Linked DNA regions of Homo sapiens: all the other regions are linked to region 3. The links come from fine-mapping of genetic effects on plasma protein levels. A gene starts in region 3. Each other region holds a variant in brackets. All regions are shown on one strand. Distances are from middle to middle.

Region 1 (8,196 bases), 38 kb after region 3:
TTTAACCCAACTAGCTTTAAGACCTTGAGCAACTCACTCTCTGACCCTCTATAAATATGTTTAGTTAAACAATGTTTAAAGTGTCTTCCAGATTAAACATATCTAAATCAATGAGCATGAAAACTAGAGAAAAAAAAAAGAAGCAGGTTTAGGCAGCAATAGACTAGAAGATGTGGCAGATTTTTATGATGATCTGAATATGAGACAAGATTGAAAACGGAGTAGAAGATTAATGCTCATAATGAATAAAAACTAGAGAAGCATCGCTCTGGAAACTTAGTCAGATATTATTAGTGCTATGTTATCGTCTGAGGATTTTAAATGATATGATACACCTGGGTTTGTTTTTCTAGTAAATTGTGTAATTTTGTTCTATGATATTGATGATTATCAAATATTATATATCAGTACTTTTTTGTGGTTATATAGAAATATTACTTTTCCTTTTTAAGAAGTAATCATGGAGGAAGCTACATAGTAGATTTTGTGCATGTGTTGTATAAAGGTAATTCTTCATGGCAGATTATTGTGATAGTATTTATGAATTATTCCTGTAACTGTAATTGGAAATATTAAAGATGAAAAATAATGTAAATTCTATGGCTTCTTGAACTAGAATAAATCATATATTTTGGCCAATATTAACCCATTTTTTTTGACATGTATCAGCAAGGGAGCTGACAGGTAGCATTTTGTCCATTTATTGATGCAACGAGGCAGTTATTATGTCAGTATGGAACAAAATTTTGAAAAGACTAAATGGAAACTACGAACAAAAGGTGACTACAAGAGACTCTAAGTCTTTATTCTTTTTTCCATAATATGACAGAATAGGTTACTGCATTTCCTTAATTTGATAGAGACATTGCAAAACGGATTCTTATCAAAAAGAAGAAGAAAGCCAACACTGAGGGAACTAGGAGGTGAAACAGATAAAACACATTCAGACTAGATTAAAAATCTCTAGCAATAGTCCAGCTGTGTGATGGTGAAGACGTGAGCTACAATGGGAATGGAGAGGAGGCTAGTTTTGGAAGGTGGCAAGGTAGTGGATAGTGTTCTTAAAAGTTCTGCATCAGAAACTAAGAGTAAAGTGGTATATAATTTGTTATTTTATTCCCCCAATGAATCTAAAAGACACTTAAAACATTTATTGAGATCCTTCCAACATTTTGTTAGAAACAGTAAAAGATCTATAACAATGTACAAAAATGAAACATAATGTGAGATTAATGTTACATGAAGAATAGAATGACAATAAAAAGGTACATTCAACATGCCTAGTTAGAACTCTAACAAAAATCTTTACCTGTTTTTCTTATTGTAGGATTCGAATACCAGGTATCAGTATTTTTATATAAAAATACAGAGAGGGATCTTTAACTCCAAATTTTGTAAAATAATACTGATCTATTCGCTGTGATTGAACTAATACTCCAAAATTAAGTATACAGTTCCCATAATTACATGTAATATAATTGAAAGGATAGTTAGTAATTAGGAGAGTTCCTTCCATCTCTTACTTACCAAAGAAATGGTGAGAAGTCCATCTCAGAGGCTAAGAGTCTAGATCTATTCTCTGTGTCCCTTGTTTCTTCTTGTTTCATGTTCTAGTTTTTCCTGGAATGTCTGCGTCTTGCTTTGGATCCTGAGTTACTAAACTGAAATCTTTGCTTGCGCACTTTTTTCAAAATACCATCCTTGATTACTATCCCTGTGCTTCCCTTCAATTAGCTCAACAAAATTCAGGCATAAATTGAGTGTCTGTCCTGCTTGCCCCCCTCCCCTGGGATTCATTGCTATGTAGTGTTGAATGGATGCAGCTGCGTTCATGGTTATGGAAGTTACCATAACTCCATTTTCTTGGGAAGTACTACATTCTTCTGCAGGGAATAGGGGGCACATAGAGATTCCCTTTGATACAGAAATCTTACATTTCTTGTGCAGCATTTAAATATATGTCTCGCAGCAATTAAGCTATACCTTAGAATATAATACACCAGTTAATTTCTAAAAGCCCTGTAACATGTTGTTTGCATGACGATTATGTGGAAAAAAAAAATACACGTACACACTTAGGAAAGAAATGGTAAAGATCTTTAGTTAAAATAACACAACTACGAATTATATTCTTCCTCACGCTTTTTCTAGGCTTTTATGTTTCCTATAAGTAGAGTTGCTTTTATAATAAAAATACAATTAAATGTGTGTCCAATGTTGCATATGAGGAGAAAGGGACATTCTATTGAGAAGAGTAATAATGATATCTTGGGCCTCTAAAACCCAAATTGTACCTTGAAAATGGGACATACCAGAGGAATAGACAGAAGTAGAGTCAAGGATGTCAAAATAAGCAACAACAAAATGTACAAAATATACTTATTCATGAGATAATCTTTATTTATTTATGTGGTTCCCCCTCTTAGATTTCTTCGGGTATTATGTCTCCCACCTGATTAAAATTTGTAAACAAGTGCATTCTAACCAGGGATGCTGTATATATTTGTTTTCCTTGGACTATGTATGTGTCCAAACTAGCAATTGAAAATGCTTCCTTTAAAATATCACTATTTCCTTATTCTGTGGTGAATCTATGGAATAATGTTTCTTTCTGTTTCTTTCTTCTGGTGTTGAAAAGGAAACTAAGTGCTCTTCTTTAGATAAAGAAGAGATTATTTGTCCTCTGTACTCCATATGGAACATGGTGTTTAGGTAGGATTACCTTTGAGTTCTAAAGACATGCTAGGTATAATCATTTTAAAGGCATGATGAGCAGGTATCTGTTTTGCTGGACACAGAAAATACAAATGGCTAAATCAGGGTTGTTTAGTTACAGCTCTCAGGAGAGCCACCTGAAAAAAAATGATGAGACCAAAGTTTTCCTTGCAATGTCTCCATTTTGTTTACAGTATTTATAGCAACCTAGAAATTCTACTTAATATTTTACTTGAAAAAAGAATTCCTCTACTCATTTTCACCTTCCTGCCTTTCCTCATGCCTTTCTCAATCCCTAGGAATTGTCTTCCTTCCCCTTCCCTTCATTCTTGAAAGTACCCCTCATATCCTACTTTCTCAATGAAGACTTCAACCATCACCATTCACGCCGATCTACAGTTCACTGACAAATATCTGAGTTTATGGTCAGTTCCAACAAAGTGCTTTCTGGTTGTCTACCATGTGTGAATTTTCCTTTCCCTTGAGGGTATCACAAATGTCTTTTAAGTTCTTACTTATAGATTTTCCGTATAGTAGCTAATTCTGTATTATATCTAACTCTATGTCTAACTGCCTAGGATGCGTACAACACTAATGTGACTTTGTGCCAGCCTGCTGTCTTTTCTCTGCCCCCAGGTTCTCAGAACATAGAAAAGTGTTAGGCACACTCACATTTAATATACTGTTAGGTTGTTTACTTTGAGGCAATGTCATCCTCATTAGTATAGGGCATTATATTCCTGAATAGCAGAATACTCCTCCATTCATGAAGTTCAGTATTATACATTCTATATTATTGCACAACAAATAGAAGACTTTGGATTTCCTTATATAAGTACCTTGACAGATGACTAACCCATTTTTCCTATGCTTTACAACTATGATCAGTAACTGTAATTTTTTTAAAGGTCCTCCTGGACCCCCGGGTGAAAAAGGAGATCGAGGTCCCACTGGAGAAAGTGGTCCA[C/T]GAGGATTTCCAGGTCCAATAGGTATGGTAATTTTAGCTATTTAATCATATACTGTGAAGATAGATGATATACATCCAGGTACATGTGTAGGGGAGGATTGCTATTTTATTTATATCCTGCAGAGGATGTGTATGTGTGTGTGTGTGTGTATGCACGCACATGTGTGTATATGTGTGTGTGTTTTGGGGGATTAGTAAATGTTCTAGTAGCCTAATCACATAATACACTGAATGATAAGCATTACTCATGACTGTTGAAGAAAATAAATGCTTTAACCAGAGTAACCAAATGGAATTGTTTGTAAGTCTAGATAGTGACATGTATATAATAGACAGCAAACAGTATAAGGCAGACCTAACCGTAGATCATATGTGAAGGGGAGTACAACAATTATCTTTGCGTTGAATAAATCATCTTCACATTTGCAAGCTATCTCATTTTTAAGACATAAAAACTCACACTAGTAGTGAGTTATGAATCACAAGCAAATTGGACTATATTTCTTATATAGTATTTGGAATATATCTGTTTAAACTAATGAAATCTGAATGTAAATATTGGCTAAAATATGGATGACACTTACCTTGCTGACAGTCACTCTCTGTGCTTTACTAAGAGCAAAACTGTTTCAAATTATTTTCCTCTAAGTTGTAATCTTGAAAGAAATATTTTGAAAGAAGACACAGAAGAGAGAACATGAACTTTCTTTGCTTGAAAAAATAAAAAAGATAATAACATGATTGTCATGTTAGCCTTGGCTTGAAATCAAATATCCTGCATGCCGTTTGATGGTAGGAAGTATACTGCAAGGTCTAATTATAAGTAGAATGGTTTGTGTTACCAAAACATGTCTAAATACCATGTACTTCATCTTATTTTTCTGTCTTTTGATTATATAAAAGGTTCTTCTTTCTGATCAGTGTATTGACTAGCCCTGGTCACATCAGAAAAATTTTTGAAAATGAGAAGCATGAACTTGATACCTGCCTAAGCACATATATGTATATATATGTATATAAATATATATGGCATATTATATGTGAAGATAGATGATATACATCCAGGTACACATGTTTTATATATATAAAATAGCAATCCTACCCATATATATAATATGCCAAGTCAGGTGGTATTAGTATTGATGTGCTTTTGAATGCCTTGCCAGGAAAGAATTTTTATTCAGGAAAGTCTTTCTACTTGACTAATGCTAATCAGATATTAACAATGCTGCATTAATGTCATAAGCAGAGGAAATAACCAGTATTAAATCTGCTGCCAGAACTACCATTGTCAAGGGTCTATCACCCCCTCCATACAGGCTGCAATTGTCAGAGCTTTATAACTCAACCATAAAAATTCAGTCTGGGCTACATCTTGCCATACAGTGCTTCATCTTGGGAGAATCTTCTGCAGCTGTTTCTGAACTGTGAATGTATGAAATAGAAGGATTTATAAATTTCAGCTTGTGTTAATGTTATAAATAGACACCATTGCAAAGAATCTTTGATTTTGTTTTTTTTTTATTGTAAATTAACGATTTGTCATGGTTTAAATTTACAGGGTAAAAAGTGATGTCATAATTTGTTGCTTTTGGTACTGCTCATTTACACAAATAGGCATTACCCAGTTCCTCATAAAAGACAGGTCGAGTTCCTGGGGTAATCAATGACTCTTCTAGGTTATCAGGTTACCATTTTGTTTGGTGCACTACAAGAAAAGTATTCAAAATACCAGGCATCTTTCCTAATGAATTATTTCTGGATGTCTTGCTGCATTCTGTTCGTTTCTCCACCAGATTGTCTAATTGCCTTATATTTGATGCCGAAATCAGGAAGCAAAGAGTATATGATGGACAATCATACTAATTCTGCTTTCTAATCTGAGCAGGTTTATTGCTTCCCCATCTCTACATCCATTTGAGCCTACTAAACTCAGCTTGACCAAGTCAAACTCACCTAGACTCACAATCATGATGCGAATATCTGCAAAACCTAAGTGGTTGTCCTAGTAGCCTCAAATAACTAATACATTAAATATAGTAGAATTATTATTCATATACTAGGGTGGATATTATGTTTAAATATGCTTTATTCCCCAAATAATAACAAATTTATTTTAGAGGGCTATTTCCTTGAAAGCATGCTAGGGAGAATGACCTATCACTTTTCACTCAAAAACTATGTGCTGAGCACTTTCTCCAGGCCTGGTGTTCTACAATACCCTATAGAGTATGTGTAAACAGATACAGAATCTCTGAATTCACAGCGCTTCCAGGATGATAAGTAGTAATATAAGGGAGGCAAATGTCATGATCAAGGATTTTTTATCTCATGTGAGTTTCTTTTAAGGGGCTGATTTTACCCATGACAACAATGTTTTGAAGGAGAAGCAACTTTCTTTTCTAAAGGAAACTTTGTGTGGGCCATCTAAGAAGCTGTTTATGCCCAATGTGATCAATAACAAGGTAGTTTGACCTGTAGGCATGGGTGGGGCTACCTACATGAGATGCCCTCGAGAGAACTGAAGGCTTCTCTGGCTGCAAACTTTTCATCATCAACCAGTACTATTTACTTCCTTACGTAGTCTGAATTTTCCACCATAGGAATCGTGCTTCCAGAAGAGAAAATAAAGCTCATCTTACCCATAGATATTGGAAGAGAGGAACCATATTTTATTAATGTTTATATCCACGTATATCTTTACCCTGGCCCGCCCCTTCCCATAGGCTATGGCCCCAAGAAGGCCCCTCCCTAAAGCTTCAGCAAGGACAGGATCCTTAAATATACACCTGAGTAAGGAATGTTGCCTGGCTGCAGGCTGTCGCTCTACACCTGAGTATTGAAAGTGGGTTTTTTCTGGAAGTAACAAATTGTGCCAGTGAATCAAAAAATGTCACTGCTAACTGTGTACGTATCATTTAATAAAACTAAATTTAGAAGCCTTTACAACAGGCTGGTAAAAATAATGATTGTATTACTGAGGAGGAGGATGAGGAAGAGGGGGAGGAGAACAAGAAAAGCTAACATTTACAAAGTAGTCATTACATGCCAGGCACTTTTCTAAGTGTTTTACGTGTATGAGCTCTTTTAACTATCACATCAGCCTGATGATGCAGAAACAAATAATACACCCATTTTACAGGTGCAATGCACAGTAAAGTTAAATGACTTGCTTGAGGTCAATCAGCAACTGGTAAGTGGCAAAGCTGGTATTTGAACCCCAATGGGCATGAGTGCAGAGTCCATGCCCTTAACCAGTCTGCTACTTTGCAGGAAGGAGCCTGAATGGAGCAGGACACCTAGGACATGTGAATAATTATCAGACCAGCTTTATGTAAGTGATTTGATCACTCTGGTCTCATGGAACTGTCTCTAAAATGATGGATTCTGACTTGATGATGTCTAACGTCTCTTTGAACATCCCATGGCTGAGATTCCATGTAACTGTACTTATATTGTCCATGAGTTAGAAGCAGGTGCCAGACCCTTTCCCATTGCCACAGATTATTGTAGAAAATTAGTTAATTGCCTCCTGAAAGCCTCAGGGTATCTGATCTTATGGAATAAAGTTCAACAGCTGTGCTTACATTTTGGGGACTACATTTTGAACCATCATTAAACAAACAAGTCACATAACTCCATAGGCCATATAGAGTCTGCTTAACCATCTCCAAGAACAGAGGTCTATGACTGCCTGATTTCTATGAAAGTATCTCATATGCTTCATTTACAGAGTTATTTGTTCATTCATTGAAAATGTACTTGATTTGTAGTTGAACATCCTTGATTTTTAGTTGAACAGCTGTGTTCTGAGCATCACTGTGAGGTACTTGAGAAGTCAGCATTGGAGGGGCTTCTCTGATGCTCTTATGGCCCCAAGATGCTCCTGTCTAAAGCAGGCAACATGGCATTCTCTGCCATGGGATCAAGTGAGACTGGGTGAACGAGTTCTCTCTGAATTGATAATGACAAAATAAGATGCCTAAACTGTTACAATAGTTTATCAAGAACTACTGAACTCTAGGATAAAATATTTTATTTCACTGGAATATAACATTTTCTTTTATATACAGTTGTTATGATCACCATAGTAATATTGGGTAAAAAAAATAGCCATTTTCAGTTTTCATTTAAGCATATGAAACCCTGGATTTGTGTAAGTATATAGTACATACTCATAAGTAAATCTGTGTATCGCATGTGTGTGTGTGTGTGTGTGTGTGTGTGTGTGTGTTTATGTTTATGTTTATTTACCCTGGGATTACAATGAAATATGTAAGAACAGGTCCATGATAGATAAAGTAATATATTTCAGAGCCAAGACACCAATTTATTTTATAAAACACTCGTTGATACTTTACATTGCTTGAGTTGCATTTTTTTCTAAGGCAAATCTTAAGAATTCAATTTTCAGCTTATGCATTTTAAAGTTATTATTTCAGCTACAGCAAGATCCTGCCATTTGATGATTACTGGTTGACTACATAAGTCTTTTGGTTAAAACTCCAAGATCT
Region 2 (8,196 bases), 82 kb after region 3:
ACAATTTAAATGAACCCTCTTTTTATAATGCACCATTATAGAAAGAATATAATTTTTGGACAGTCTCCACATATTTTTTTCTGGTTTTAAATAGCAAACCTGGCTTAGCAGATAGAATCCTTAGTTTTAAGAACAATTAGTTTTGCAGCTGCAGGTAAAATGACTTATAGGAATAAAGTTTCAAGCATGCTCCTTTAAATAGGTTCTCTCATTTGGATGCACCTTTTTTTCTGACTAGACAAAACAAGTTTAATTAAGGAAGCACTGAGGGGCATCTACTGTTTATCAATGCACAGGGCAGGGAAAGGAGAGTGAGTCACTTTTTGCCCCGTATCCAGGCTTTCCCAGCTATTGTGCCTGTGGTCTCCCTGCAGCAAACTTGGATGAGTTTTATCATACAACAGTGGTACCTCCAAGAATTTGTTCCAGGTATATCTGAGCCTGTATGGATGCTGATGAGGGAAGTAAGATCTGGAGTAACTATTGCTTCTTCTCCTGAGTTTATAGTGCTGAAACTCCAAACCTGAAAAGAGAAACAAAAGTAATATATAAACATAAATGCCATTTAAAAGTTATTCTTAGCTGTCTTTTCTTTGCTTTTTTATTACCACTTTTACATACCATAATCAATTTTCTATGTGAAATTTTCAAAAAAAAAATGTAAGGGTAAACAGAAGGCAATCAAAAAATGCACCTCTATACCTCTGAACTATCCCTTAATGAATGGGAGTAAATATAATCTCAAAGATAAATAAATATATCAAAGGGTCACAAGTCAAATTTTTACATACTGCTCCTTGCATGTTGAATGTTTTAAAATGTAAACATTTGAATGTTAAATATTATGGAAAGTAGTATAGGGCTGGTCCATACAGCTGGGTAATCACAGAAAAATAGCATATTTTTTTCATAGAGAAAATAAGTAGGGCTAGCAGAGGTCATCAAAGTTGTACAAATTTACGTAGTCATTATGGTGGTTGGGGGTGGTTGGGGGTGGGTGGGAGTGGGAAGAAGGGTCAAGATTCATGCCTTAACCTTTCTCTCATACCATGCTTTCTCCACCAGATGGAACATCCTTCCAAGTCCTTTATACTTAAGATCTTCATTTCTAAAGAGCTTGCTTCTTCAGAATCTTAGTATCATGAAATATTAAAGGTAGACAAAGTCTTAAAGCTATGTTAGCCTTACTCCTTTATTCTGCATATCATAAAATTGAGGAAAAATGAGTGGTTTCTCTATAAGCACAAAACTACAATCCAAACTATAGGCTATATTGACCCATTCTTCTCTACTTTGATTCCCAAGGTGTTTTCAACTTTAATTTACATTGTTTTTCTCAATGGAGACACTGTTCACAAAACACTTCCCAACTAGGCTTAAAAGTCATACAAATTTATGTCACTCAGTCATGACTAGAAATAATGAAAATACACATTCAGGCACTTTTAACTATTAATGATATTTGCTCTCCCATTTATCTATTCAGCAGCTGATCTCAAATCTCATCATTTTATAATATATCTGGATGATGTATGAAACTGATTACCTTTTATTTTTCATGGAAATGCTGGTAAGATTAAAGATACCCAAATCCCCCAAAGAAATATCAGTATCTTTCATTTTTTAAAAAGAGGTGAAGAGGAGGTCAGGCACAGTGGCTCACCCCTGTAATCGCAGCACTTTGGGAGGCTGAGGTGGGTGGATCACAAGGTGAAGAGATCGAGACCATTCTGGCCAACATGGTGAAACCCCGTCTCTACTAAAAATACAAAAATTAACTGGGCGTGGTGGTGCACACCTGTAATCCCACCTACTCAGGAGGCTGAGGCAGGAGAATCATTTGAACCCAGGAAGCGGAAGTGCAGTGAGCCGAGATCACGCCATTGCACTCCAGCCTGGGCGATAGAGGGAGTGAGTCTCTGTCTCAAAAAAAAAAAAAAAAAAAAACTTAAAAAAAATATATAATCAATATCAATCCCTACAACCCTCAAATTATAAAGGAAATCATAGATATATATATGGCTAGGTATATAGGTGGAAAGATGAGAGAGAGAGAAAGAGAGGAAGAGGATTAGAGATTAAAAACATATCTAAGAAACACACGTAATTTTTGTATAGCTTTCCACCGAATAGAAAGAATAGTTCAGAGGCACAAAAAAAATAATAACAGTGACAGCCCCAACAACGAAGATCCTTGAATAACAGTTATTATCTAAAGAAATAAAAACAAATTTGTTTTTTATCTCATTGGTTTACACAAGGATAAAATTTTATGAATTTTATACTATCTGCATTAACTTTTTAATGCAGAAAACAATTTGGAATGAGACGGAAAATGTGTATTAAATAAATTTTTCCCCTGGGCTCAATAGTCTTGAATATATTAATATAAAAATAAAACAACAAATCTTTGGAAATTACTTCTATAATTCTATCTAGACATCTATGTAACCCATGAATATCACTAAGCTTTAAGTGTCATCATGTTCTGTTGCCTGGATCTATTCTTTGTAAATTTGAGAAAGTCATACACCCTTTCTCAGTCTCAGTTTATGTATCTATGAAATGGAGATAATTATCATTATTTAACAAGGTTATTATAAAAAGTAAATTTAGAAATGTATGTGAAAAGACCTAGCATATTACCTTATACACAAGCACTTAAAAAATTTTCACTGTGTCTGAAACTGTTCCACATAGCAAAAGACAGAGATACCAAATTCCACAATACATTTGTCACATCCATGTGTCCTCAGAGGAAAAATAACCAGAATAAGAATCAGAGGCTCTAGATGCCAGTATTTGCTCTGGCATGATTGTATATGTGATCTCAGTTGCTTCATCTACCTAGAACATAAGCCCTCCCAGGAAGTCAGTCCACAAGAGTATGGAGTTTGGTCTTGTTCACTCGTGTAGGCACCAAAGGAGATTTGCTAAATAAGTAAGTCTAATAATGAAGGAGGTTGCAGTAAGTCATTGATTTAAGGCAGTGGCTCAGGGTGGATACAGGGTGAGAATCCTGTGCGACTTTGAGCACGTACAGTTCCTTATCCTTGCTGATTTTCAGTTTCCTCAACAGTAAAATGACACAATAATGGCATTCAGTTTTTGAAAGTTATTTGAGGATTGCATGGAATAATACATCACATGTATAAGTGTTTCCTGCCACATAAGAAATTCTTAAAAGACTGGACTTAAATTTTCATTATCAGGACCACAACCTTGGTATTCTAACATTCGTGAATTCCCTTACTGCAATTTCTAAAAACATGTGCTTACATGTCAGCACATTAGTCAACTAAATAATTTCTTTCCTTTGCTATTCATGTTGGGATGGCCTTGCTGGTGCTGTAGACATTGGGAGAATTCCCACTCTCAGTTTCCTTTTCCTGGATTGTACAAATTCTGCACTGCTGAAATCTAAATTCACTGAGTAGACCTACAAAATACAATTCGAAAGCATCACAGTAGCCCGGGTTCACAATTCATGGAGCCATTCTCGCACTCTCCAAATTATGACAGAGCCATGGCTTTCACCAAAAGTTTAATTTCTGTTTGTTTATACAATTTATAAATGACAATAAATATAATAGATATAATTTATAAATGTCTCGTACTTCGGCTTCCTCCTGTATTAACATGGGAATAGTCTTACTATTTGTGCAATTGTTTTTATTTGCCTGTATTTTTAAGTAGCCCTTTGAGGCTTTCAAAAAGTTTTTATAGACTTTATATACTTATAAGGAAACACAGATATACAAATACGTATACACATACAAACATGCTCACACATACAATCACAAACACAATAGGAAACATGCCATGCCTAGTAAGATAATTTGGGAACTAAAAAGTGTCCCTGGCAAGGTTTCTGATTTTGAGATCATATTCCTTTTTTCTTTTCCTTCTTCTGCCTTAAAATTTCAAGTAAAAAAGCCTCAATACTGTTATAAACACCTCAAAAAATACTTGGGCTCTCCAACTTACTGTTAACACTCTTACAATTGATCAGCTCAGGAAAACCTTTGCTTTGTCATTTTCTTGCTGTTTGTTTGTGTTTGCAATCAGTAGCATTCTTAATCCATGATTTCCTTACAGGATGGTGTGTAGGCCCTTTGCTGATTAGATTAGTTCTACTTTAATTAAAAACAGATAATGTATTTGATAAACCAGGCACACATAAATTGAAATACACGGGAAGATAACAAAAGGAGGAAGATGCTGATATTAAGTTTTCCTTTTTCCGGTTTATTTTATGTGCAAATATACCCCAAGACCCTTTGACATACAGATACGCTTGGATCATCAGGTTATTACATGTACCCATGATTATTAAGGCTCAAACTTTCTTCTTTATTTTTAGATTAATAATAAAACTAATTTGTCAAATCCTTAAAAAAACATTCTTAATCTCTACTTTTATAGAACTGTGTAGGTAACTTTGTTAGAGCTCTTCTTACTTTGCATTTTAGTAGTTTACATGTTAACAGAGTATAAAGTGTTCTGAAGCAGGAGATTAATTTTTGATTCCTACTAGAGAGCACAGAACTTGCATACAGAAAATAATCAACACTTTTTTGTTTAATTAGTGAAGGAATTAATGGCTTTGCCCCACTCAAAGAGAAACACTAAACTCTAAACTTACTAATGCAGTTATACCTCATTATTGCAGGTACTGGTCCAATATGGCTGAATGAAGTGTTTTGTTTTGGGAGAGAATCATCTATTGAAGAATGTAAAATTCGGCAATGGGGGACAAGAGCCTGTTCAC[A/G]TTCTGAAGATGCTGGAGTCACTTGCACTTTATAATGCATCATATTTTCATTCACAACTATGAAATCGCTGCTCAAAAATGATTTTATTACCTTGTTCCTGTAAAATCCATTTAATCAATATTTAAGAGATTAAGAATATTGCCCAAATAATATTTTAGATTACAGGATTAATATATTGAACACCTTCATGCTTACTATTTTATGTCTATATTTAAATCATTTTAACTTCTATAGGTTTTTAAATGGAATTTTCTAATATAATGACTTATATGCTGAATTGAACATTTTGAAGTTTATAGCTTCCAGATTACAAAGGCCAAGGGTAATAGAAATGCATACCAGTAATTGGCTCCAATTCATAATATGTTCACCAGGAGATTACAATTTTTTGCTCTTCTTGTCTTTGTAATCTATTTAGTTGATTTTAATTACTTTCTGAATAACGGAAGGGATCAGAAGATATCTTTTGTGCCTAGATTGCAAAATCTCCAATCCACACATATTGTTTTAAAATAAGAATGTTATCCAACTATTAAGATATCTCAATGTGCAATAACTTGTGTATTAGATATCAATGTTAATGATATGTCTTGGCCACTATGGACCAGGGAGCTTATTTTTCTTGTCATGTACTGACAACTGTTTAATTGAATCATGAAGTAAATTGAAAGCAGGACATATGAGAAAACTGACCATCAGTATATTTGTCCAGATAATTGGTGGATCAAAAATGCCACTTAACAGGAAGTTTAGTTTGTTATGCACTTTAAATGGAATAATTAGCTTGTTACAATTCTAGGACATGGTGTTTAAAATTTAAATCTGATTAATCCATTTTAACAAACAATGCAAACATCTTCAGTGCAGAAGGAAGAGTGGTTTCAACTGTTTGGAGTCTTTTATGAAGTCAGTCAACATTTACAACCAAAGGGCGGGGGGGGGGGTGGGGGGTGCGTCTTTAGTCCTAAAGGGACAATAACTCTGAGCATGCCCCAAAAAAGTAGTTTAGCAACCTTTTGTTGGTAGTCAACCCATCCCCAGGGCCATAGTGTAGAGTGTGAAAAGCTACCCTGAAACCCAGTAATTCTACCCTGAAAGTGACTGCCTGCAGAAAGACCAGCAGTTGATATTAAAGCGCAAATGAATTCAACCTCAGCCCTGAAAATAACAGAATTCTGAAGTTTCCTATGACTAATTCACAAAAAAAGTAATTGTAAACTAGTACTATTATGGAATTACTCTACTGTTCTTTCTTTAATAGTGGCAAATGAAAGCATAAGCTTAAGCATTTTTTCATATTCTGAAGTCTCACCACACATAATAACCAAGTGGTAGACTCACAGCCGTCCAACTTAAAAAGGCAAAACCTTACCTTGGAATTGGAATTACTGTAAACAGCCTACTGAAAATGCATTTTTATCATGTAACATTCTTCTACTTGTTTAACATTGCTGATTTTCTCTGGCAGCATAATTTTGTGGTTAAGAGAATGAATTCTGAATGTACACTTTCTGTCTCAAACCCTGGCTGTAATTTCAGCTAGTTAATAATTCTTTGTGTTCAGTTCCACTATCTAGGTATTTTCTTCAAAAGGTAAATACAATGGTTTCTGAAAGAATCATTTGCATTATCAGCCTGTTTGGGATGTCTGAGATCAGTGCCTCTGGGTTGTTAATACTGTATTGCTGTATGGTATATGTATGCTGATTTACTACTTATGCGTAAGTGGTATGCATGGGATGTCTGAAATCAGTGCCTATGGGTTGTCAATAGTATTAACTATTAGTGTTAACTGTTAGTATTAACTATTAGTATTATTAACACTAATAATAGTACTATTACTATTACTATTTTTATTTTAAAATAAAATTTACCTTTAAAATAATAATAGTACTATTGCTAGTACTAGTACTATTGCTATTACTAGTACTATTACTAGTACTAGTACTATGACACTGTTAATAGTACTATTAACAACCCATAGGCACTTGGGATGTCTGAGATCAGTGCCTATGGGTTGTTAATACTATATTGCTGTATGGTATATGCATGCTGATTTACCACTTATGCATAGATATATCTTTAATAAGTAATCTAAAAATCCTTTTTGTATTTGAGAGAATCTACTAAGTTCAGTCCAGTCAAGAAAAGAACCTAATAGCACCAATACAAATTGAGGACTTAATTTACTTTGGAATGTTGAATTGCATTTGTTCCATTAAAAAAAACAGAAATTTGCGATTTGGTTTTTTTGAAAAAATAGCTCAGCTGACCAGAATGAATGTATTCTACTTGTTGAGCCATCCAGCATCACGTTAAATGCAAAATGTATATATAAATAAAAGAAGAAGAAAAAAGAAAGACCAAAGGGATGTAGAAAATGAAGAATAACCATTAATATCTAAGGGCCAAACACATTCCACCTAAATTATCTAAATAGTTTCAAATCAAAACTTTCCATTTTTTCAAAACGTATAGACCATAGTAGTTTGTACTTAAGTAAAGCATTACATTAATTTGTAATGTGCCTATTACAAATAATATACAGTTGACCCTTGAACAATGCAGAGGTTGGGAGCACTGATCCCTTCACAGTGAAAAATCCACATATAACTTTTGACTCCCCCAAAACTTAGCCACTGAGAGCCTACTGGTGACCAGAATCCTTACCAATAACATAAATAGTCAATTAACCATTTTTGTATTACTAATAATGTCAACTAACACATTTTATATGCATGATGTACTGTATTCTTACAAAAAAATAAACTAGAGGAAAGAAAACTTTAATTAAATCATAAGGAAGAGAAATATATTTACTATTAATCAAGTGGAAGTGAACCATCATAAATGTCTTCATCCTTCATTGTTGTTTTCATATTGAGTAGTCTGAGAAGGAGAAAGAGGGGGAGTTGGATTTGCTGTCTCAGGAATCGTAGAGGTGGAAGATCCATGTATAAGTGGAACAGTGCACAGTTCAAACACATATTGTTTAAGGGTTGACTGTAATAATATTTGCTATGAAGGGTAAAATGAAATATTTCTACCCTCAGTCATTTGTTTGATCAGTATGGCAGTGATATGTATGTCCAAAGCAATCACACTCAAGAGATACAAATTTACCATCACTGGGTTACAATGGTAAGCATTATTTACTCTCCGGAGTTGGAGAAGCTCAAGGCTGGTGAAGCTCAAGATCTCATGTTAACTAAATAAAATCAAGATTATGGCAGAGAGGAGGAAAAAGTCAATGTTTGTCAGGTAGACAATTAACAATGTTCCCTCAGAAAAGCACAATTAGGAGATGATTACGTTGAGATTTTTTTAATTCATTGAGACAGTATATAGGAATTTTAGGAACATGTGTTTGGCACTAGATGTGGTTTTGGCTTTTAATCACACATAAAACCATAATATAGCCTGA
Region 3 (8,196 bases):
GAGGAAAGGGTGAATTGTCAAATGTTGCTTGCAGGAGACAGCTGATCTTGCAAGGAAATTAGTCATTCGTATTTTGGGCATATGTTATCCATTCTACTTCCCTAACTGTCTAAGGACAGTGTGACTTTTAGGGTCTTAGGTATGCTTACTTGCCTTTTAGTGTGAGGTTGTATATTAATCTAGCTAGGAGCTGGGTTACGTCTAACATTTCCTGTAGATACAGCTGTCAGAAGCTAAAATTACCTGTAGTGTCTCTTTGTTGCCTCTACTGTATTTAGGTTCCCCTACAAACTTCCCTTTCAAAAAAAACCTTGCATCTCTTTCACCTGTCATCCACTGTTATCATACGGGAGCTCTGTTGACGGAGGGGTGAGATGTGGGGGCGGGGTGAGGTGTTCTATAGTCTTCTGATTAAATCTCAGTCTTTTAGTGGGCCCTTGTCCCCGGACTGTGACCTGTGACCTTCATGAGCGTTTCTAAACTTTTTTTTTTTTTTCCTTTTTCTCTGCCAAGTTGAACTGCAGCTGGAAGACTAGAGGGAGCGAGCATTGAATAGTTACCCTTCAGCTGCCTAGCTAAGATAACGCTCTGATAAACTCTTTTCACTGGGGAGTAAGCCTTTGTTACAGGAAATGCTCTACGTATATTTTAAAATCATTAGATTTCCCTTCTCTCTGCCAGGGACATCAGGTGATATTTTTTGGTATATACTGTGAGAACCAAGTTGTATTCCTGGAAGTAAAGCCTGTAAGTGTTTAGGGGGCGCCTTGAAGACTGCAGCCCCCAGGAGGCTCCAGTGCTCACACTGGTCCATACTCAGCCTCTTGCCAAATTCCTGCTTAGGTGTTCCTGCCAGTTTGTGGTTCCACTGGCATCAGCTGCAGGTGATCTGGTGTCTGCTGTGATGCTCTGTAATCTCCTCTCTCTCCCGGTTTCAGGCTGGTAGTTTCCTTGAGACCTCAGTTCTCTGATGGGTCCAAGACGTCATTGATTTTTAGTTTCTCCAGCTTTTTTCGTGGTGTCGAGATATGAGTGATGACTTCCAAGCTCTTTAGATGTTGAAGCTGCAACTAGAAGTCTTCCATGAACTTTCTTTTAAAAATAGACAGTATGGCATAGTGCAGTGTTTCTCAAAAGAAAATAAATATATTGATCTCTATACCTTATTAAGTGTTGATATATTATTTTATTATAATTTTATGTTAAAATAGAGAAACACGAATTTAGACCTAAACACTGTAAGCCTACAGTTCTTAACCAAGTTTTTGAAATATAATGCATATGTTAATTAAATTTTAAAATCTCGCAAAAAAATTAAAATTTTAACTAACACCACCAATTTAAGATTGTGTGGGCAAGCCAAAATATTATTATAGGTTTAATAGAAGGAAGATACTATTCAATTCTGATACTGTCCTTGGTCTGTTTCTGTATTTGACTTCAATAATTCTCATATAGGAAAGTTCTGTTTAATAAGGCTATATAAAATGTTACTGGTACCTTCACAGTTTTCTGCTTATGATTATCAAAGAAAAAGCTCTGCCAATATGCAATTTTTCAATGTCAATTTTATTAAAGAATGTTTTGATAATTCTGTAAATGCTTTATAATCCCACAGCAATATGTGTCCGTTGCAGCATTATTAAAATCTGTATTTATATCACTATTTACTTATTGCTTTGAATTAAGAACATGAAAAATTTTATCTCGAAACTTTATCATATATATATCATACAATAAATAAGTCATAATGTATTAACTATATATTATGACTAACAACCTGCTGTAACTTTAGACATACAAAAATACCTCTTAATGAGTGTAAAATGTTAACTCTTCTTTTGAGTTCAGTATACCTGTACCACAGTGAGTCCTAGGACATTTGAATCAATTCTCTCAAGCCATTTGCCTATTTGATTATGAATCTCTGTTTGGTCACTGGGCATAATCTTACATGGACCTCATTCTAGACACATATATCCATAAGCAACAAAAATAAAGTAATTGGGATCCATCACAATAACTATGAACAAAGTAACTATCCACATGATCTGGAATTTGCCCATATTTGTGGCTTGTTTTCTGTATACTGTTTTTGATGGAGATATTATAGTCCCCTAATAATACATATACCTACTTCAGCTTAAGAAAAAACTATATTTTGCCAAATTTTGTAATCAGACTGGGTTTAAATACCAGCTCTGATGACTCATAACTCTGATCTCGAGAAATTTACTTACCATCTCTAAACATTAATTTCTCAATTAGGGAAGTGATATGACAAAGTTGCTGTGAAGTCAAATGAAGGAATGAATGCAAAATCCCAACCCTTTACATATTACCTCTGTTCTCAATTAATCATTGGCTTGAACTGAACATTTTTAACATGGTTCCCTGCTAAAGGTGTTTTTACATATAGTAAGACCTAATAGATAATATTATGTTACATAATCTATAATTATTATATATAAAACTATATAAAATTATATAGTACCTATTTAGACATATAAAAAGGGAAGTTTTTTAATGAAAAATTAGATTGGCTGAAGAGTGTGGAAATCATCACATAGGGAAGTGGTCAGCACTGTGGATATACACCAAACAGTATTACAGAGACATACTGAAAATAAAGCACACTGACAGAAAGAAACCTCATTAGGATAGAATTTTGGGAGATTGGTGTCTTGTTATTCCCAGAGTCTGACTTTTCTAATCACGTAGCATTGTCAGGGATATCTAAATTTTAAACTTCAGATTTTGTACAAAAAAACCTAAAAGGACTATATTTTAAAATAAGAAGCATGTACAAATAATTGTAAAGGAAAGAGTGTGAGTTTTGTAGTCTCCAGTTCTGTGTCAGTAAGAATTTGATGAGGAATAGCCAATAGCATTTATGCTGGTCCAGGCTGGATCAAATTGTGATCGTACTTCTAGTCTTCAAGCTGCCTGGTTAGAAATTATGCAGCTTACTTTGATGCCTGTCCTACTACTACTATTAGCCTTTTAGTGGTTACCTTAAGAATAACTGAATAATACTGTTACTTTGCATCTCTCAAAGACCGTGCGCTGTTCCCGCATACTTTCTTGCAGACGTATTGTCTTCTGAAGGATGGTGCCCATGGGCACAGCAATTTGGGGCATCTTTTGGTAGGAAGCATGATTTCTCCTGTTTGGGCACAAAAGAGTGACTACGGAATATAAGCTAAACACCTTCTCCCAGAAATATCAGTTGTAAAACTTAGCTCATTAATGTAATGTTGAACGTTTTCATGTGAGTCATACTTGAACTTCTTGAATGTGAGTAAATAACGGAGTTGAATTGTATAAAACCCTGATGGATGGCAGAAGGGAAAGAACATCCCTTTCATCTGATCCATGCCTGAGATTCCTTCCCTCTACTATACTACTGGAAATAAACAACTTGTCTGGTGCTCTAAAAATTAATGCTATTATCATTATAGAGAGAACAGGAGTGAGTGCTTTTAGGTTATTACTTGTTCTTACTAAGGCATCATATTCTTTCTTCACGTGTTTTGTGTTTGAGGCTAGGGATAAAGGTACAGGAAAAAGGATCTAAGAAAAAAACTCGAATCTCTAAACATGGAGTCTTTTTTTTTTTTTTTTTTTTTGAGGTGGAGTCTCACTCTGTTGCCCAGGCTGGAGTGCAGTGGTGCGATCTCTGCTCACTGCAACCTCCGCCTCCTGGGTTCAAGCAATTCTTCAGCCTCAGCCTCCCGAGTAGCTGGGATTACAGGCGCATGCCTGGCCAATTTTTGTATTTTTAGTAGAGACTAGTTTCACCATGTTGGCCAGGCTGTTCTAGAGCTCCTGACCTCAAGTGATCCAGCCACCTCGGCCACCCAAAGTGCTGGGATTACAGGCATGAGCCACCACACCTAGCCAAACATGGAGTCTTTACTCAACATTATAGTAACGTGAAAGAGGAGATCATGAGAATTAATGTATGTTTTAGAAGGCATAGATTACTTATAAAAAAGGAAAGATCAGGCTGGGCACGGTGGCTCGCGCCTGTAATCCCAGCACTTTGGGAGGCCAAGGCGAGCGGACCATGAGGTCAGGGGATCAAGACCATCCTGACCAACATGGCGAAACCCTGTCTCTACTAAAATACAAAAAATTAGCCGGGTGTGATGGCACACGCCTGTAGAACCTGGGAGGCAGAGGTTGCAGTGAGCGGAGATCACACCACTGCACTCCACCCTGGTGAGACAGCGAGACTCCATCTCCAAAAAAAAAGGAAAGCTCAATCTGCTGTAAATTATGTGCTTGTTTCAACAACCCTTGTTTCTTTTCCTTTTCACTTCTCTTTTTTTTTTAAAGCGGCCTAAATGGGGTGAAGAGTGAGTTATCTGACAAATTTAGATTTTGCAAACCTGTGCATTGATGAGAGTGCTATTGAAACACATTAAGAAAGATTTTCAACGCAGGAATGTGTCATTTCCTTTCTTCATGTACCAGATGCTGAAATACTATGAGATAAAGATTTTAGGTTTCAATTGTAAAGAGAGAGAAGTGGATAAATCAGTGCTGCTTTCTTTAGGACGAAAGGTAAAGAAAAAAAAAGGCTTATTTTAATGTTTTTTCCAGAATTGTTTCTATTGATTGTTATGTGTGTACTCTGTGTGTGTGTGTGCATGCATGTGTGTGATATATATTTGTGTGTCTGTGTGTGTATGATGAGATGAATGCTTTATTGTATCAGCAATAATTTGGTTTGGTTTTTTTCGATAATCAAAAAATAGGGATTTCTGCTAAATTTTCCATGAGTGAAAAACATATATGTTCACAAGTACATATGAAATACACTAAATGCTTTGTAGTTTGAACCAGCAATGGGGTTTTTTCATATAATTAAGCATATTTTGTTTAAAATACTGGTTTTATTCAAAGTATAATTTGACATATTTCACCTATTCTCCTTTCATAACTTTTCATGGAACATTTTTGGCTTTAATCTAATGCCTTTTATTATCTTCCCTTGATTATATAGCAAATATTGGCTGGGTATCTACTATATGCACTTCATTGAACTAGATGTGGGGAAAGGATACAAAAAATAAGATATAGTTCTTTTTGTGCTCCGGAATCTTATGATTTAAAACATATCCCCAAATAGGCATAATGTAATTTGAGCACCTTAAGTAGTATGAAAGTACTATAGATAATTACTAGCACCTTAAGTAGTATGAAAATGCTATAGATAATTACTATGAAAATATAGGCGAGGCCAAAATTACTTCTATGTGAAAAAAGTCTATCAAAAATAAATCTTCATGGAGATGCTAGAAATCTGATTAATCTTGAAGACTAAGTAAGATTCACACAGCATATAATGGGAGGTTGGCATTTGCACTGACCAGGTAAAAATACTTATAGAAAAACCATAGAACTGAGATTACAGATGTTTTATGCAGTGATTAGCCGTTTTATGCAGTGGGTAAGAGCTAATCTTCTGGGAGTAGACTGCCTGTGTTCAAATTCCAGCTCCCCTGCTCCCTAGTTGAGTAACTTGACTAGTTACTTACACATTTCAGTTCCCTAACCTGTAAAATGGAGAAAATACTACTTGTACCTCATGAAGATTCCGTGAGAACAAAATAAGAAAAGCTCATATTTAAAAAAAAAGTGATATTTTAAAATAACAGGGATTCATATATTGATGGTTTTCTGTGTACCAGGCAATTTACAAAAATTATTTTTAATTCTCGCAATAATTCTTTAAATTTATATTGTGATCATATTTTACATATCTAAAGAAAGTTCAATTCAAATAAGTTAAAATATTTGCCTAAGATCACACAGCTAAATGATGTCACAGTCAATACTCAAATCTAGATTTCAGATTCAAAAGTTGATGCTCTTTCTTCTTTGCTACCAAGGATGAATATCAGTGACATCAGGCACAATATAAATATTTCCATTTCTTACTAAAATCTGTCTTACAGACGGGTTCCTTAAGCATAAAGCTGTTAGTTTCACAAATAATCTTAATTTAATTTTCATTTTATATACACATTCAACTGCTGTTACAAAAATCAAAGTTATTATTTTATATAATAAGGAGGATCACAAGCTTATTATTTATTCCAAATGTTGAAGATAAAGTTGGCCTTAAGAATATGATGGGCCGGGCACGGTGGCTCACGCCTGTAATCCCAGCACTTTGGGAGGCCAAGGCAGGTGGATTACCTGAGGTCGGGAGTTCAAGACCAGCCTGACCAACATGGAGAAACCCTGTCTCTACTGAAAATACAAAATTAGCCGGGCGTGGTGGTGCATGCTTGTAATCCCAGTTACTCCGGAGTCTGAGGCAGGAGAATCACATGAACCCAGGAGGCGGAGGTTGTGGTGAGCCAAGATCACGCCATTGCACTCCAGCCTGGGCAACAAGAGCGAAACTCCATCTCAAAAACAAAAAGAAAGAAAGAAAAAAGAAAGAATATGATAAAAAAACTAAATAGGGAAAAATCTTAGGAAAACGAATGCATGTCAAGTATGAAAAGACAGATGGTAAATATGTATTAAACATAAAGAGCTGATTCACATGCTTAGGTAAAAGAAACCTGTGGGGATGTATAAGCAGTGAATATGAATAGATAATAACCCAAGAAGAACAATGTATGACAGACAATTACAGTGAAATCTCTCTCTTACATTAATAATAAAAAATAAAAATGAAAACCACTTTTAGGTATTATTTAACTCTTATCAAAATCTAAATGATTCTAAAATAAGCTTTATTATTCAATGGTAGTGAATTTTGCTTGAAACTGCCATATTCACATATAAGTCTGGAATATTTATAAATTTATGTTATCTTTTTAAAGATCACTAAGACAGTAGAGCCCAAGAAGTTCAAAATAGTTTTCCTTTCACTTTTTAGTTTCACATATGATGAATTATCCTAAAGAAACATTTTAAAAGAAGAAAGCTAAATTATGAAAATAATGGCCGGGGCAGTGGCTCACATCTGTAATCCCAGCACTTTGGGAGGCCAAGGAGGGTGGATCACCTGAGGTCAGGAGTTTGAGACCAGCTGGATGAACGCGGTGAAAAATACAAAAATGAGCTGGGCATGGTGGCAAACGCCTATAATCCCGCTACTCGGGAAGCTGAGGCAGGAGAATCACGTGAACCCAGGAGGCAGAGGTTTCAGTCAGCTGAGATCACACCATTACACTCCAGCCTGGGTGACAAAGCAAGACTCAATCTCAAAAAAAAAAAAAAAAAGGAAATATTTATAACATCATTATTTATATCAGTGAAGCATTGCCCCCTGGGAAAAGGAAAAAAAGTTTAAAAGAAAAAATTATATTTTAGAAAAATGGCTGTATTTTTTATTTAGAAAAATGGCTGTATAAATAAGATTTTATATATATATAAAATATATATAAAATAAGATTTTATATATATATAAAATATATATAAAATAAGATTTTATATATATATAAAATATATATAAAATAAGATTTTATATATATATAAAATATATATAAAATAAGATTTTATATATATATAAAATATATATAAAATAAGATTTTATATATATATAAAATATATATAAAATATATATAAAATAAGATTTCATATATATAAAATATATAAAATATATATAAAATATGATTTTTTATATATAAAAATATATATAAAATAAGATTTTATATATAAAATATATAAAATATATATAAAATAAGATTTTATATATATAAAATATGATTTTATATATATAAAATATATATAAAATATATATAAAATAAGATTTTATATATATAAAATATATATAAAAATATATAAAATAAGATTTTATATATATATGAAATGTAAATAAGATTTTATATATATATGAAATGTAAATAAGATTTTATATATTTGAAATATAAATAAAATAAGATTATATCTAAATATATATAAAATAAGATTTTACATATATGAAATATATATAAAATAAGGTTTTACGTATATATGAAATATATGTAAAATAAGGTTTTACGTATATATGAAATATATGTAAAATAAGGTTTTGCGTATATATGAAATATATGTAAAATAAGGTTTTGCGTATATATGAAATATATGTAAAATAAGGTTTTATATATATAAGCAAGTCTTTGCTACATAATAATTCAACACATATATATATGTTGTTTTATATATATATATATATATATATATATA

Which allele goes with the higher level. Positions count from the first base shown, and alleles are read on the strand shown. Strength reflects both the effect of a copy and how common the allele is. Not every link is listed here.
As copies of G replace A in region 2, the plasma level of the protein whose gene starts at base 4,516 in region 3 goes down (moderate association).

Evidence for each region. PIP is the posterior inclusion probability: the model's chance that the variant is causal. Protein levels are from antibody-based Olink assays in UK Biobank. Linkage for the fine-mapping came from a reference panel and not from the study's own genotypes, which makes the PIPs less certain.
Region 1: its variant is fine-mapped to the plasma level of the MSR1 protein (UK Biobank, PIP above 0.99). The variant lies in the coding sequence of MSR1. If it changes the protein, the assay may bind it differently, which can mimic a change of level.
Region 2: its variant is fine-mapped to the plasma level of the MSR1 protein (UK Biobank, PIP above 0.99). The variant lies in the coding sequence of MSR1. If it changes the protein, the assay may bind it differently, which can mimic a change of level.

Annotation. Positions count from the first base shown.
Region 1 is chr8:16,150,572-16,158,767 of GRCh38, reverse strand. MSR1 (macrophage scavenger receptor 1) reads left to right here. Exons shown (of 10, transcript NM_138715.3): 6 at 3,624-3,704. Among named protein-coding and RNA genes, the nearest start is that of MSR1, 38 kb to the left of the region's middle. The variant C/T (reference allele first, on the strand shown) is at 3,683.
Region 2 is chr8:16,106,695-16,114,890 of GRCh38, reverse strand. It overlaps MSR1 (macrophage scavenger receptor 1), which reads left to right. Exons shown (of 10, transcript NM_138715.3): 10 at 4,673-7,010. The coding sequence ends at 4,806. Among named protein-coding and RNA genes, the nearest start is that of MSR1, 82 kb to the left of the region's middle. The variant A/G (reference allele first, on the strand shown) is at 4,772.
Region 3 is chr8:16,188,971-16,197,166 of GRCh38, reverse strand. MSR1 (macrophage scavenger receptor 1) reads left to right here and starts at 4,516. Exons shown (of 10, transcript NM_138715.3): 1 at 4,516-4,569.